Linked DNA regions of Homo sapiens: region 2 is linked to region 1. A link means that fine-mapping ties the variant in region 1 to the expression of a gene that starts in the linked region. Tissue or cell type: sigmoid colon. Region 1 holds a variant in brackets; the other region holds the start of a gene. All regions are shown on one strand. Distances are between the middles of the regions.

Evidence for each region. PIP is the estimated chance that this variant, and not a neighbour inherited with it, causes the effect.
Region 2: CRYM starts here. The variant in region 1 is fine-mapped to the expression of CRYM in sigmoid colon (GTEx, PIP above 0.99). The same link has a PIP of 0.9 or more in putamen.

The regions. Positions count from the first base shown.
Region 1 is chr16:21,223,187-21,231,293 of GRCh38, reverse strand. It overlaps LOC105371123 (a long non-coding RNA gene), which reads left to right. Exons shown (of 2, transcript XR_001752344.2): 2 at 3,709-4,530. Among named protein-coding and RNA genes, the nearest start is that of ANKS4B, 6.5 kb to the left of the region's middle. RefSeq lists an enhancer at 8,085-8,107. The variant TAAAC/C (reference allele first, on the strand shown) is at 4,013.
Region 2 is chr16:21,274,253-21,282,353 of GRCh38, reverse strand. CRYM (crystallin mu) reads left to right here and starts at 4,064. Exons shown (of 8, transcript NM_001376256.1): 1 at 4,064-4,272; 2 at 4,770-4,923; 3 at 6,760-6,822. The coding sequence starts at 4,103. RefSeq lists an enhancer at 4,063-4,272.

The sequences.
Region 1 (8,107 bases):
TTTTTTCTAAGCACACAGAATATTTATAAAACCTGACCACTGAATAGAAGCAGTGCAGTTCTCGACAAATAACAAATAACAGGGTTCATGCAAACCGTGTTCTCTGAAGACACTGCAACTAAATTAGAAACCGCCATCCTTACATAACTCATCAACTATGCATATGTTCTCCTGTGGTGTATTTTTTACATTGTTTTCATCAAATACATATAATTTTACATTACATCTTTTCCACTCCTTAATCCATCATAAATATATCCCCATATTGTTACACAATCTTTAATATATTTAGATAATTGTCCACTAAACTGATGTGAGAAATATCTATTTTTGAAGCCTGTAACTGTATATTCCTCTTATCTCTTTTTGTCTAAGTTTTTATTCCAAGATAAATTATTTACCCACTCAGAAAAAGTACAAAGCTTTCATCTACAGTTTCTTCACAATAATAATGAGCTCCAAAGGTCACTGTTTGTTCCTTTTTCTGGCTTCTAGGTGAAGAGCAGTAGAAGCAGCCTGGAGGGCAGCATTATTTAGCTTTTTTTAAACATTGTTTTTAGCCCAGAGAGAGTGACATATCCAAACATGATTATGAATACTGTGAGAAAATGGTAAGGTTCTTCATCAAGTTTTGCATGAGCCACTTTAATTTAGATACAACTGCATTCATTAATGCACTTTGAAATTTAAAAACAGGTCAGGCGAGGTGGCTCACGCCTATAATCCTAGCACTTTGGGAGGCAAAGGTGGGTGAATCACTTGAGGTCGGGAGTTGAAGACCCACTTGGCCAACATGGCAAAACCCCATCTCTACTAAAATACAAAAATTATCTGGGCATGGTGGTGCACACCTGTAAGCCCAGCTACTCATGAGGCTGAGGCAGGAGAATTGATTGAGCCTGGGAGGCTGAGGTTGCAGTGAGCCAAGATCACACCACTGCACTCCAGCCTGGGTGACAGAGTGCAAAAAAAATAAAAAATAAAAATACATATAACCGATAGAGAACTTCTCAAAGATGTATTATTTGTAGTAGAATCCTAAGACTCCAGCCAAAGGGTCTGCTTTCAGAAGATAAGGATGAGGAAGAGGAAGAGAAAGAGAAGAATAGTGGCCACTAGGATGGTCATAAGCCAAATTAGGATGAGGATTGTCAAAGTCAAAATAAAAATTTAGAGCTGAATCTCTAAATTTAATGTTTTATTTGGAAAAAGACTTGCAATTTGGGATACACACATAGACCAGGTGGTCTTCAGTATGTCTGAAGAAGAAAAGAGAAGTTTAGAGGTTTTATTAACAAGAGAAATGTTACATATTGCTCTTCAAGAAAGTTCATTGGCACTAGTAAGGGTTTGGGGAGCTGGCAAGCTCTGATTAGTGGGCAAAATTTGTCCTAGAGTTGCAGCAAGTTATCTCAGCAGCTGTAAATAAAACTGCTCCCGGGTTACAGCAGGCAGTTCCAGCAGTCAGTCTTGCTGAGAATTACGTTCTTGGAGCAATTTTTATTTATTTATTTATTTTTTGTACTCGGAGTGCTTTCTCCCCCAACTCCACCACCCAGCCTCTCAACCCTGATTTAGTTGGGTATAACAAGAATGATGCAATTTGCGTGATTAAGTTTCACAGGATGGAGGCAAAGGGTAAAGAGGACAGAATAATTATAGAGATGGGGAAGAAGGATTGGAGATAGAAGACAAGAAAGAGAAAGAATTTCTCAGTTCCAGCAGTCCTTAGGACTAGAACTTAAAGTCTCCTGTGAAATGGCGAAATAACCAAACTTTCTTAAATGGTAAATATCCTGGCATCCTCTGGCACGCCCTTGGGAAAATTTCCTCCTTGGGAGAAGAATGGGGTGGCAGGGGCAGCGGGGGGTGGGGAAGTGGGGGCAGAGATAAGGATTTAAAACATTTTTCTGAACTTGAAGATCCTCCTTATCCTATCCCTTCAAGGTGAGGTTGGGAAGGAGGGTTGAAGACCTAGCGTTCATATAATCCAGGAAAAGTTACTCCATCTATTTGAGTCTCCATATCCTTGTGGATAAAACTGGGGGATGTTGCTAGTGATCATATCATCATTATCATCAGCATCAACTAACTTTAGTAAAGATGAAGAAATAAAATTTCTTGCAACCCATAAAGCATGTTTTTACAAACTAGAAGTAGTGTGATTGTGGCTTAGGGAACAGACAGAGGAAGTTTTAGCCCAGTAATCATTTTTGAATTCCTCAAAGCCCAAAGGAAACAAAATTGGTGGGAGATGGTAAGGGCAGAAATTAATAAAAAGAGCTAACACGAATTTGCATATAATGTAGACATTAATTCCTTGTGAGGAGTCATGGTAATTGTGGGGGCAGTTGTGGATTTTCTTGACTGTACTGATCTTGTGGAAATTAGTATTTGAGCGTGTTCCATCAGCATACAGCTGGACTCTTGGAAGGCCAGAGAAGAATATTTGCCAGACACACACTGGAGAGACTTTGAGGCTCGGACCTGAGTGGCAGTGACCCCAAGTCAAAGCTCTCATCAACCTTCCTGTTGGAGCCTCGCCATGCTCCTCATATCTCCCCATACTCCTGCACTACTAGTATGTCTCAACTTAGAGAAACATCCTGTCCATGACCTCTGTGTTCCCTTGACTCTGACTGACACTTAGGTTTAGACAGGCAGGTCTTATTTCCTCCTGCACTGTCCTAAAACTCTAGAACCTCAACCTATTATCTGGAACCCCAAGCAGTTGGTTATTTAATGATAAGAAGCCCTTCTCCACAGACACCACTTCTTTTTTGCCAAAGACCCAGAGAAAACATGGTTAATCTGCTTCTAGGGGCAGCACTTGGAGAGATTCTCTCATGAATGGTTCCCCTCCTCCCCCCAGAGCAAGGACATTGTCAGCTTCTCATTGCTGTGTTTATGATTTTGCAGTCTCCCCTAACATCATAACAGCTGACAGTAGCTGACAACTAGGTAGTCTTAAATAGGTGTTCCTTCTACCATGGAGTCCAATCCTGGCCCAGAGGAAGTAGCATTTGGATGAAGAATTTACCTGGAACTCTGACTATCTATAAAACAGAGTCATGTGTGTTCCTTTGCTCAGGGAGAGGAAAAGAAGGGACAGAGATGATGGTAGTTGATACTTCCAGTCTAACTCCAAGAAAAAAACAACACTTGCAAAGTACAAACCAAACTTCTTCCTCATTGTTCTGAAAAACCATTTGCTGCTAATTGGGAAAGAAATTCAATGGCTTGTGCAACCCAGAAACACATATTTTCAGTAATGAGATTGCCCCTGTGTCCTAAGAGATCTGGTTTTCAAAAGCAGCCTGTGTTTGATCTCTAAAGCTATTCATGTCTAATTAGAGAAGAAATTCACTTGTATGGTAGGGAAGCACATTTTTTTTTTTTACATAAGAAGGAAAAAGATCAGAGTAGAACACTGCTTTTAACAAGATTACTTCATCTAATGAGGATCTTATTATGAATTTTAATGAAAATAAAAACAGTAACAAAGTAAGGGAAATTAGAGAGTAATACAAAAGTCCTGTTGTTCCATAGAAAACTTGCAGGAACCAGGCAAGGACAAAAGAAGCCATCAGTAACACACTGCTGTATGCACTGCCCTTGGGTTTATGAGAGACTATCTGTTAAGGTAAAGATGTGCTCAAATATATTATCCAGAAAATGTCACTTACATGTGTATTCTTTTCTCTTTAGCACAATGATACAACTGTTCAACCTATTTGATATGGATTTCTCCTATTCGGAAGAAATTTCAACAACTTCACTTCTAACTTAAACACATTCATCGACTAGCCTGGCCAACATGGTGAAACCCCGTGTCTACTAAAAATACAAAAATTAGCTGGGCGTGGTGGCATATGCCTGTAGTCCCAGCTACTTGGGAGGCTGAGGCAGAAGAATCACTTGAACCTGGGAGGCAGAGGTTGCAGCAAGCCGAGATTGTGCCATTGCACTCCAGCCTGGGCGACAAGAGCAAAACTCCGTCTCAAAAAATAAA[TAAAC/C]AAACACATATAACACTGTCAAAATAAGGAGAAACTTTCTTTCCCACATTGAAAGTCATTGATGTTTTCCTTAAAAGCATTGTATCATGTTTGTATTCTTTAACAATCAAAAAGAATCATTGTCTGCCTTTTTGTTTCTTCTTTTCTAAATGAAAACATTTATAAAAATATTTAAGTGGATAAGTTGCCTATTGAAATTGTAATGTCCCTGAAGTATTGGTTGAGCTTAATTTATTCATATAAGTTTCAAGCCATTCAAAGGCCTATTTTTCTGGCAGAAAACTAAAGACAGAGCTGTTATTGTACCATCTGGTTTGCATGAGGAATCTCTTGGCATCTCTTAACTGCACATTTTATAAATGCTAAATCCCAGATGGCATACATTGTAACAGTGAAGAGTTTTATAAAGGCTTCCAAAAACAAATTCTTTCAAATTTGAATACTGGATAGTCTAAGCAGGGGCTAGGAATTTAAATTCTACACTTGATTAAACTGGCTTTGTTAGCTGAACAAATTTCCCTTTTTTCTTATGTCTTTCCTTCTTCCTAATTATTGGTTCTGTGACTTGAAAATTTCAATCCATGTAATTCTTCTACCAACAGGTCCCCTCTATAACTCAAGTTCTAGAAAAACTGCAGGAACGACAATCATTGGAAAAACCTATGTTAGGTGCCATTTTGTTTCAAAGATGGTAGAATTTACCACAAGGGAGGTGTGTTATAGCATCCATTAGCAGATCATCAAATACCATCAAAACCGTTCAACTCTTACAAAGCTGATGGTTGGATTGGAAAGACAAGCAAATGTAAACTCCAAGCATTGTGTTGAAATAAAGCCAGAGTAGAATAATGATTGAGAACATGGGGTCTGAAGTCAGAGACTGACAGATATTAAGCCCCAGATTGGATCTTCCCATTAAGTTGGGCAAATTACTTCTCCCTAAGCTTTAGTTTCTTCATCAGTAAAATAAAGACAGTACTTTTCTCTTTAAAAGAGAATCATTCACAGGGTTGTTGCAAGTAATTACTGAATATTTGTAAAATACTAAGTACAGTTTATGGTGTGTAGTCAGCACTTAATTAAAGTAAATTAATAGTAGTACTAGCACTAGGAGAAAGAAAGTTTCTCCTTTCTTTAAGTCAATCTATATAAATGCAGCATTTTCTTAAAACTTCTCTTTTCTCTGCATTTTCCTTCTCAATAACAACAGCCGAGACCTAGTTTTGTTTTTTTTTTTTTGTCCTACCCCTTATCATGGTATAATAAAAATAATATATATTTTACAGTCACACAGAATTGAATTTCAATCTGGGGTTTTGTAATAGTTTACTAGGACTTCCATAACAAAGTACCACAGACTGAGTGGCTTAAACAAATTTATTTTCTTACAGTTCTGAAAGCCAGAAATCTGAAATCAAGGTGTGAGCGTGGTTGGTTCCTTTTGAGGGCTGTGAGGAAAGGACCTGTTCCAGGCCTCTCTCCTGGAAAAAGACTTGCAAATGGCCATTTTCTCCTTGTGTCTTCATGTCATCTTCCTCTTCACATGTCTGTGTCCAAATTTTCTCTTCTTATAAGGACACTTGGTCCTTATAAGATGGTCATATTGATTAGAGCACACCCTAATAACTTCATTTAACATCATCACCTCTGTAAAAGCTGTATTAGTCTGTTTTCACACGGCTATAATGAAATACCCGAGACTGGGTAATTTATCAAGGAAAGAGGTTTAATTGACTCACAGTTCCAACATGGCTGGGGAGGCTTCAGGAAACCCAATCCTGGCAAAGGCAAAGGGGAAGCAAGCATCTTCCACACACAGTGGTAGGAGAGAGAATGAAGGAGGAACTTCCAAACACTTATAAAACCATCAAATCTCATAGGAACAAACTCACTATCACTAGAACAGCATGGGGGAAATCACCTCCATGATTCAATCACCTCCCTCCCTCAGCACGTGAGAATTACAATTTGAGATGAGATTTGGATGGGGACACAGAGCCAAACCGTATCAAAGGCTATCTCCAAATACAGTAACATTCTGAGGTGCTGGGAATTAGGACCTCAACATGAATGGTGGGGGAGATATATTTTCAGCCCATAATAGCTTTCTACTACTATCAACTGGAGGAAAATTCACCTCAAGGAGACTTCATTTCATTTTCTTACTCCTATCTGGATTATTTATAAATCAGTGCTTAGCACAAGGTCTATACATTGTGGCCTTGACAAAAACTTTCTTCCCTTCTTCTTAGAAAGACTCATGAACTCACATTGTTTCTGGGAACCACCTACTCTTTCCCAGAACTCTGGATGAAACGTGAACGATGTACATGTGGCTTACAAAACCTGCAGAGGACCAAATGAGGAAGGAGTGGCTTACAGAGCTATGATCAAAGGAGACTTAGCAGGACTCAGCTGTTATTTGAATGGTGGGGGACATTTTATGGAAAAGATGCTTTAAAGATTATACAAAGGTGGCCAGGCATGGTGGCTCACACCTGTAATCCCAGCTCTTTGAGAGGCCGAGGTGGATGTATCACCTGAGGTCAGGGGGTCAAGACCAGCCTGGCCAACATGGTGAAACCCCATCTCTACTAAACATACAAAAATTAGCTGGGTGTGGTGGCACGCACCTGCAGTCCTAGCTACTTGGAGGCTGAGGCAGGAGAATCACTTGAACCCAGGAGACAGAGGTTGCAGTGAGCCAAGGTTGTGCCACTGTACTCCAGCCTGGGCAACAAGAGTGAAACTCTGTCGCAAAAAAATAAAAAAAGATTATACAAAGGTGAGAATCAACTTCTTTAAACACAGGGGAAAAAGTAAAAAGCAGAGATGAGGGGAACCCTGGATTCAATTCCCAGGACTGTCACTAAGTAACTGTAGGACCTAGAGTTATTGTCCCTATCTGCAATCCAGGTTCCTTGCCTCTCATATAAGGAGGTAGCAACCAAATTCTGTATCAGTCAGGTTTCATCAGAGAAGCAGAACCATTCTGAGTGATATAGAATAAAGGGTTTATTGCAGAGATTAAGCTTATACCTGGAAGCCAGGTAAGCTGTCTAGTAAGGCTATTTCTTCTGCACCAGATGTTAGACCCAAAGTCCGTAGGGCCAGCAATTGGGAAGTAAAGATGGAGAGGAAGTAAAGAAAAAGAACAAATTAGAATCTGCAGAGACAAATTGGAACCCCAGAGAATAAAACGAAACCCACGCCTGTCTCTCACCACCCCCAACCTCGACGACACAGGTGTCTACAGGATAAGCTGCCACCTTTCACCATAGACAAAGCTGCAAACGCACCTGGCCTAGGATTCAGAGAAGCTGAAGGGGGAGATCTGGACGGAGTGGGAGGAGCTGCAGGTTCGCCTCCTGCCCCACGCCCACAGGGTGAGCAGCAGCTCAGCCACTATATGCATGGTCTCTCCATGGTTTTGGAAGTTACAGGCTGCTGGTGGATGGGAATAAATATGGCCAGAGATATGTCTTGTTTGGCAGGCACAGGATTTTGAAAATATCTTTAACATTAAATATCAACATTAAAATTGAGGAAATTGAATGGAATCTGGATTTTCAGCTTCCAGATGAGAAACTGAAGATCATGACAATTACCTCTGCCTGAGCTGGGAAGCAGTTCTTTTTTTTCTTTTTTCTTTTTTTTTAAGATGCAGTTTTGCTCTTGTTGCCCAGGCTGGAGTGCAATGGCGCGATCTCAGCTCACTGCAACCTCCGCCTCCTGGGTTCAAGTGATTCTCCTGCCTCAGCCTCCAGAGTACCTGGGATTACAGGCATGCGCCACCATGCCCGGCTAATTTTTTTGTATTTTTAGTAGACAGGAGGTTTCTCCGGGTTGGTCAGGTTAGTCTCGAACTCCCAACCTCAGGGGATCCACCCACCTTGGCCTCCCAAAGTGCTGGGATTACAGGTGTGAGCCGCTGTGCCCAGCCAAAGCAGTTATTTCTTTAGATGCAGCCTGGACTCAACAGTCCACATCACCCCCAGCTGCCCAGAGCTGTAATCCTGACCCTGAGGGCAATAGTTAGTCACTTGCCATTCTCATCACACTAAAGCCATTTCCTTGCACCCAACCGACTT
Region 2 (8,101 bases), 51 kb before region 1:
GAAGCACGCTGTATTATTCCGTTTTCATGCTGTCTATAAACACATGCCTGAGACTGGGCAATTTACAGAAGAAAGAGGCTTATTGGATTTACAGTTCCACATGGCTGGGGAGGCCTCACAATCATAGTGGAAGGCAAGGAGGAACAAGTCACATCTTACATGGAGGGCAATAGCAAAGAGAGAGCTTGTGCAGGGCAACTCCCATTTTTAAAACCATCAGATCTCGTGAGACTCATTCACTATCATCAGAACCGCAGGGGAAAGACCCGCCTCCATGATTCAGTCATCTCCCACTGGGTCCCTCCCACAAGATGTGGGAATTATGGGAGCTATAAGAAGAGATTTGGGTGTGGACATGGAGCCAAACCATATCACATGCCTTGGCCAAGATCAGAGACAGGCACTTTGAAGGAGGAGGGTTGGGGTAGGAGCTTTATGCTCAACAGGTTGGCTAAATATACATATTCAACAGGTGAGAGAAGAAGCTATGAATATTCATGAAAGTGGTCCTGATGCATGTGTATTTAACAAACATGCATGTTACATACAACTCATGTTCATTTTGGGGTGGTTGCAGCATTTAAATGTATTACAATTCAGCCTGATACGTCAAAAGGTCTTTTCAGGACATGAAGGCATGCAAGTGTGCAACCTCTGTAAGTCAGCCAGAACCATCCTATAGTCGGTAGTCTTATCAGGAGAAAGTTACTGAAATCAGTCTCTTGTCCAATCAAGCTGTAGTTATGGCTGGTGGAACAAGGGGTCGGTTAGTCAATATCTGTGATTTGGATGAGTTGTAATTGTTTTAATATTGCATATCTTCAGCCGGGCACGGTGGCTCATGCCTGTAATCCCAGCACTTTGGGAGGCCAAGGCGGGTGGATCATCTCAGGTCAGGAGTTCGAGACCGAGACCAGCCTGGCCAACATGACAAAACCCCATCTCTACTGAAAGTACAAAAATTAGCCGGGGGTGGTGGCATGCACCTGTAATCCCAGCTACCTGAGAGGCTGAGGCAGGAGAATCACTTGAGATCATGCCACTGCACTCCAGTCTGGGTGACAGAGAGGGACTTTGTTTCAAAAAAAAAATTTATATATATATATATGCACATATATACATATCTATATAGATACATAGATACATATACATATCTATATAGATACATAGATACGTATATATGTATATACATATATGTTTGTGTATATATATATATACAGAGAGAGAGAGAGAGAGAGAGAGAGTGAGAGAGAGAGAGAATCACTCTGTTGTCCAGGCTGGAGTGCAGTGGCACGATCTCGGCTCACTGCAACCTCCACCTCCCTGGTTCAAGCAATTCTCCTGCCTCAGCCTCCTGAGTAGCTGGGATTACAGGCACATGCTACCACACCTGGCTAATTTTTGTACTTTTTGTAGAGATGGGGTTTCATCACGTTGGCCAGGCTGGTCTCAAACTCCTGACCTCACATGATCCGCCCGCCTTGGCCTCCCAAAGTGCTGGGATTACAGGTGTGAGCCACTGTGCCCAAGCCATGTTCCCTATCTTCTCTGAGCAGGGCTGGGGAAAACAAAAACAAAAATATTGCTTATCTTCAAGCCAGTGCTTGTTTAGCTGCTGGAGAAAACAAAAACTCTGTGGCAGTTAGAACATAGCTTTTTTCTTTAAGTGTAAGGGTGCGTGACTTAACCCTTCCTGGCATGGCCTTAGATCCTGTTTATAATTTGTTATCGTATTGCCACAAAGAGTCTGTTCTGTCAGTCTTGTGATCTCTGTATTAACATTAAGGCTGCTCAGTTGTGTCTAAACTCTAAAAGGGAGAGGATGTAATGAGGCATATCTGATTTGCCATCCCATCATGGCTGGAAACTAAGTCTTTAAGGTTTTTCTGGGGTCTGCTTGGCCCAGAGGGGGTTCATTCAGTAGGTGGGGGGCATAGGATTTTATTTTTAGTTCACATTCACAAAAACAAAGGGCCAAAAAAGTCTTACTGTGTCACACAGGCTGGAGTGCAGTGGTGCAATCTTGGCTCATTGCAGCCTCCATCTCCCGGGTTCCAGCAATTCTCCTGCCTCAGCCTCCTGGGTAGCTGGGATTACAGGCACCCGCCACCACACCCAGCTAATTTTTGTATTTTTAGTAGAGAGAAGATTTTACCATGTTGGCCAGGCTGGTCTCGAACTCCTCACCTCAGGTAATCCACCCACTTGGGCCTCCCAAAGTGCTAGGATTACAGGCGTGAACTATCATGCCAGGGCTATATGTCTGTGCTTTCTAAACCCAATAAATGTGATGTAATATTAATGCTAACAGCACACGTGATGGGCCAGAAACATTTCTATAAGCCCAGCGGCTCTGGGCATAAATTTCTAGGGATGGTGAACCGAAGAAACAAAATTGTGTCATTGAAATCAGCTTTTCCCAACCACCAGTGTCTTCTCTCTCTCTCTCTTTCTCTCTCAGTGTTCACTTATTACATGGCTACTCTGTGCCAAGCACTGTTGCTAAACACATTATGTACAATTTCTCATTTCATTGGTACTGATTTTGACACTTACTCATCCACTGTCTTTTATCATGATGTGACCATTTCCTACAAAATGCCCTATGTAGCTTCCAACCAAAATACCACAAAGCACAACTTCAGCAGTCCTGCCTCTTGACCTTCTCCCAGGCTCTGCTCTCGCTCATCTGTTCCATCCTTTGCATTGGCAGAAGACCCATCTTTCTAAATGCTTACTCTCTTGGAGCATGTAATTTCTTTCCTAGGAATCACCATTCTCAGCTGCCTGACTCCAAGAATCGTTCTCAGTTTTATCTTCTGATGCTCCTAGACCTCAGCACCTTATTCCAGCCTAACACATCTGGCAACTCACTGTTCCCAGAGCTATTCAACATGCCTTCCACCTCAGGGCTTTACTTGGCCTGTAATGCCCTCTTCCTCTCTTTCTGCCAAAGTAGCTTAATGATTAGGAATATAATTCTGAAGTCCAACCATGGGCAAAGCCAGCTCCTCTGCTGACTTGGTGGATGACCTTGAACTAAATTTCTTCCCTTCTCAGAGCCTCCAATGGACAGTAAAACTAATAACAACACCTCCCTACCTTAGAGGTTGTTGTATAATTAAATGAGATAATATACATAAAGTGCATGGTGCAGTATCTGGTACATAGTAAAGATCAATAACCTGATGTTATCATTGTTGTCGTCACTATTATTATTTCAGACCTTGGTTTCTCCCCACTCTTTCATGAAGCCCTTATCTAACCACTCCAGGTCAAAATCATCTCTCTTTTCTTTGAATTAACTTACTTTTCCTATCACTGATTTGATGACTAGGATTTATTGCCTTAAGCTTTACATCATTCCTTTCCGATTTTATTTCCCCATCTCAGGTAAAAACTCCTGGAAGAAAAGATCCTGCAATTTGGCTTTTTGTGAGATGGAAAAGATTACACCTTGCCCTGCAAACTTCCCCCCTTTAAAGGCGAAGGTTTGTTAGGTTAGTTAGCCTGTGAGAAAACTGTGCGTTCTTAGCAATCAAAGGCCAGACATCTGGGGGTACAGGGGGGAGGAAGACTAGGATAAGAGACTCTAGACGGGGACAGAATTAAAAGGAAAAAAAAATTAAATAAGCCTCCGTCTCCTTTTATCTCCTAGCAGTAGGCAGTAATTTAATAAATAAAGGAGCCCCGTTAGCGTTTTCCCTGTCCATTCTTTCCCAGGCACGGTGACCTAGACAGCAGCAAAAAGCGAGTTAATAGGGAGGGGTTATGTAGGAAGCAAAAGTCAAGGAATGTGGCTACAGCTGATTACAGGAACTGAGAAAGTGGACCAAACAATATTGACTCCCAGCACGCCACCGCGATGTCCATCTTGGGGAATCCGTTGCTGGAAGGGACCCATCTCGCCCACCCTTAGGGGTCGAGGTGGGCGAAGGGGGAGGAGAGGGCTGGCGGGGCGGGGCGGGGTTGCTCCGCCCCCGGAGGCTGGGCTGTGACCAGCAGGCGGCTCCACAGAGCAGCGGGCGCGCTCATAAAGGGCACAGCCGAGGGTACGTGGATCGCGGTGCGGAGACTGAGGTTAGAAGGCACAGGTGGCGAGATGAGCCGGGTACCAGCGTTCCTGAGCGCGGCCGAGGTGGAGGAACACCTCCGCAGCTCCAGCCTCCTCATCCCGCCTCTAGAGACGGCCCTGGCCAACTTCTCCAGCGGTCCCGAAGGAGGGGTCATGCAGCCCGTGCGCACCGTGGTGCCGGTGACCAAGCACAGGGGGTGAGTGAGGAGGGTCGGGGTCAGGGGCAGGAGAAACTGGAAAGCGGGGAAAGGAGGAGCAGGAAGAGGAGGGGTGGGAGAAGGGAAGAGACGGCTTGCCTAACCGTTGCTAACAGCTGCCACTTTTAATAGGCGCTACCCGGTGTGCTAAGTGGGCGTTTTACAGGTGTTACCTTGTTTATTTCAGCACACTCTCCACCTAGGGAGGTATTGATACCACCATTTGATTGGTGGAAAACTGAGACTCAGAGAGGTTAAGTGACTTACCTAAGCTTACACAGCTACTAAGTGGCAGAGCTGGAAAGGTTTTCTGATCCAGAGCCAGACTTCTGAACATACTGTGCATAGTGTCTAAGGGAAGGGCAGAGGGATGCGGGGGCTGGAAGAGGGCCAGTGGGGTGGTGAGGAAGGAAAGAAAAAGGAAAGTATATGGATACTTTCTAAGAGACCCCAGCATTGATGGGAAGGGGCTGAAGCTGCTCCCTCTCTCCTTGTAGCTACCTGGGGGTCATGCCCGCCTACAGTGCTGCAGAGGATGCACTGACCACCAAGTTGGTCACCTTCTACGAGGACCGCGGCATCACCTCGGTCGTCCCTTCCCACCAGGCTACTGTGCTACTCTTTGAGCCCAGCAATGGCACCCTGCTGGCGGTGAGCAACTTCCTGTCCCGGGGTGGAATGGGGCCCCTGGGCCCAGATTGAAGCTCAAAAGTAAGTTCTCCGCAGCAGGGGGAGTCTTGATTGTGACTACGCGTGCCCCTCTGCAAGTGACTGGATACCAGCAACAGTGAAGGTTATCTGTGTCCATGTATCTATTTCTAGGACTGCCTGAGGATGCATAACACGGCACCAGCGCCCACTGCTGCCTCAAGCATGTGACAGTGTGGAAATAATAATCTTGTTGTCATTCTTGCATATGTCCTTGTCCTATACTCAGTTGCCCCAAATACGCAGCTTGAATGAACCCATTAGCCAAGGGAAGACTTACTTACTGAATCCTTGTCGACATGGAAAAGAAGGGGTGTTCTATAATCCCTGGGAGTCTTCAGAGGGGTATACGGTGTGACCTGTTTTAATATCTAATCATAGTTTCAAAAGGTAGCAGTAGCTTGTGTTTATGGAGTACTTTTTATAATGCATCAGGCACTTTTCTAAACATTTCACATTTATTAATCCTCTTAATACTTAAAACTATTCTATGATATGGGTAATATGATTACTCCCACTTTATAGATGAGGAAACCGAGTCAGAGCAACTATGTTCAACTTACCGAGGTTTATGTAACCAACAATTAGCATGGTTGGACTTCAGAGCTGCTCAGTCTAAGTCCACGGTCCATAGGTCCAGACTCTTCTAAGACCACCGCCATTTTAACTGCTACATATTGGGCACTTATGTGCCAAGAAGGAGACGCTGATCACATTCAATTCTGCAAAATTCCTCTATGGGTGTTTTTATTAACTCCCCTTCCCCCCAATTTCTGTTGAGGTCCTTGAGGCTCAGGTTAGTAGAGTCACTTTGCTTGAGGTCACACATCTGGTTAGTGAAAGACTCAAGAATCACTCCCAGGTGTGACAGTTAACTCTTAAGGTCTGTGCGCTCCAAGCTGGGTCTTACAATGTCCCTCCTTTTCCCCTGAATTTCTGGATCGCCAAATAATCTGGCCGTTTAACACTCCTTTGAGAATATCTAGCTTTCCCCAACTTACACTCATCCAACCGAGATGGCATTCATACTACCTGCCAACAGCGGTTCCCTAGGGGGGTAGAACCCAAGGCTTTGAAACTAGATGACAGCTGAATCTGCTCAGTGACTTCGTGATTCACTTCCTCATCTGTAAAATGAGGTTGATGATGCCTATTTTTTGATGATCAGCTGAGATGAATAACAGGGAGAGGAGTGCAGAGGATGGTTTTTACTAGCGAGGCATAATTTTCAACCTTCGCTGTGTATCGGAATCACCTGGGCTGTCTGGGTCTCACTCCTGGAAGAGATACAGACTGGGTTAATCTAAGGGTGGTATCTGAGCATCTTCACGAAGCTTTCCACATGTGCAGCAGGAACGGAGAGCCACTAAGAGTTTCATGGCCGTTGTCCAGATGTCAATTGGCAACCTTCTCTCTCTAGTTCCTTCTTAATTTGGTGTTTTGAGAATCCTAGGGCAAGAAAAGAAAATGGGCAGTTCTTGAGGGCTCACCATGTGCTAGATGTTTCCAGATATGCCAGTGCATTTAATCCTCACAATAACCCTCTGAATGGCTGGCATTATCTTTTTTACAGGTGAGGAAACCAGTGCTTAAAGATTAAAGTGTTTGTTCAAAGTTGCATATCTCGTAAGTGGAGGAATCGGATCCAGGTCTGACGCCAAACCCATGCTGTTTGTAGGATGCTATAAAACTTCCTAAGCTAATATTTTAGAACTGTTTCTTCTAATTTATGCAGTGGACAGGGGTTCCCCTTGCTCACTGTCTCTCTTTTCCTCCAAGGTCATGGATGGAAATGTCATAACTGCAAAGAGAACAGCTGCAGTTTCTGCCATTGCCACCAAGGTAAGATGAATGGCTGGCTGTACCATTAAGGTGAGCTGTCAAGTGGGGTCTGGTGTCTCAATCTTGAGAGACTAAAGGAGAAGTGGGGAACTTATTTTGGTTTCCTGTTGGACATAGCTGGAACTCCAGATGTCAGATATATCAGTAATTCACGAAATTATTAGCTACCAATTAGTGTGCATGACCAGATTTCAAGTACCTTATGTGCATAATTCTCAATCTTCCCATCAGTCTTGAAGAATCGAAATGAGAAATTCTCTCCACCTTCCAGGTCAAGGAATATGGCTCAGAGAGCTTCTGTGAATTGCCCAGGATCACACAGCTAATAAGTGCTAGAGTAAGAATTTAATACTTGACCTCTCTGGCTTCCAGGACTGGCTTCTTGTCCCTGTACCACATTGCCCCTGGTAAGACAGTATAATTGTCCCATAGACCAAAGCTAGTACTACACAAGAGGCTGAGTGAACTGAACATATCCAAGCCAGATCCCTGTATTCATTCGACAAGTATTGACTGGGCTTCTATCATGTGTCAGGCACTGTTCTAAATGTTAGGGAAATGGCAGTGAGAAAAACAGAGGGGCACACACAGGGGAGGTAGACAATACCAATAAAAAGGAAAACACAGGCTGGGTACAGTGGCTCACGCCTGTAATCCCAACATTTTGGGAGGCTGAGGCAGGCGTATCACTTGAGCTCAGGAGTTGGAGACCAGCCTGGTCAACATGGTGAAACCTCGTCTCTTGTAAAAACACAAAAATTAGCTGGTCGTGGTGGTGGGCGCCTATAATCTCAGCTACCCGGGAGAGTGAGGCAGGAGAAACGTTTGAACTCAGGAGGCAGAGGTTGCAATGAGCCCAGATCGAGCCACTGCACTCTAGCCTGGGCAAAAGAGTGAGTGTCTTAAAAAACAAAACAAAAAGGAAACAAAACAAAACAAACAAAAACATCTGTTGAGTTTAATAATGTGTTAAATAGTAATAAATAATATGTAATTAAATAATTAGTACATATTAATAAATGATTAATAGCGTGCTTAGAATTTGCTAAAAAATAAAACCAACAATAATCCAAAAAGCCACATAACATGTTAGGTGAAGATAAAGCAGAAGTGAGAGTATTGGAGAAGCTGTCACATTTTACATTATCCAAGAAAGGCCTCCCTGAGAAGGTGACATTTGAGTCAAAGCTGAAAGCAGTGAGTTAGCGAACCATGCAAAAACACGGAGGGGCACTCCAGGCAGAGGGAACAGTAAGCAATGGGGGTGATGATGTTCCCA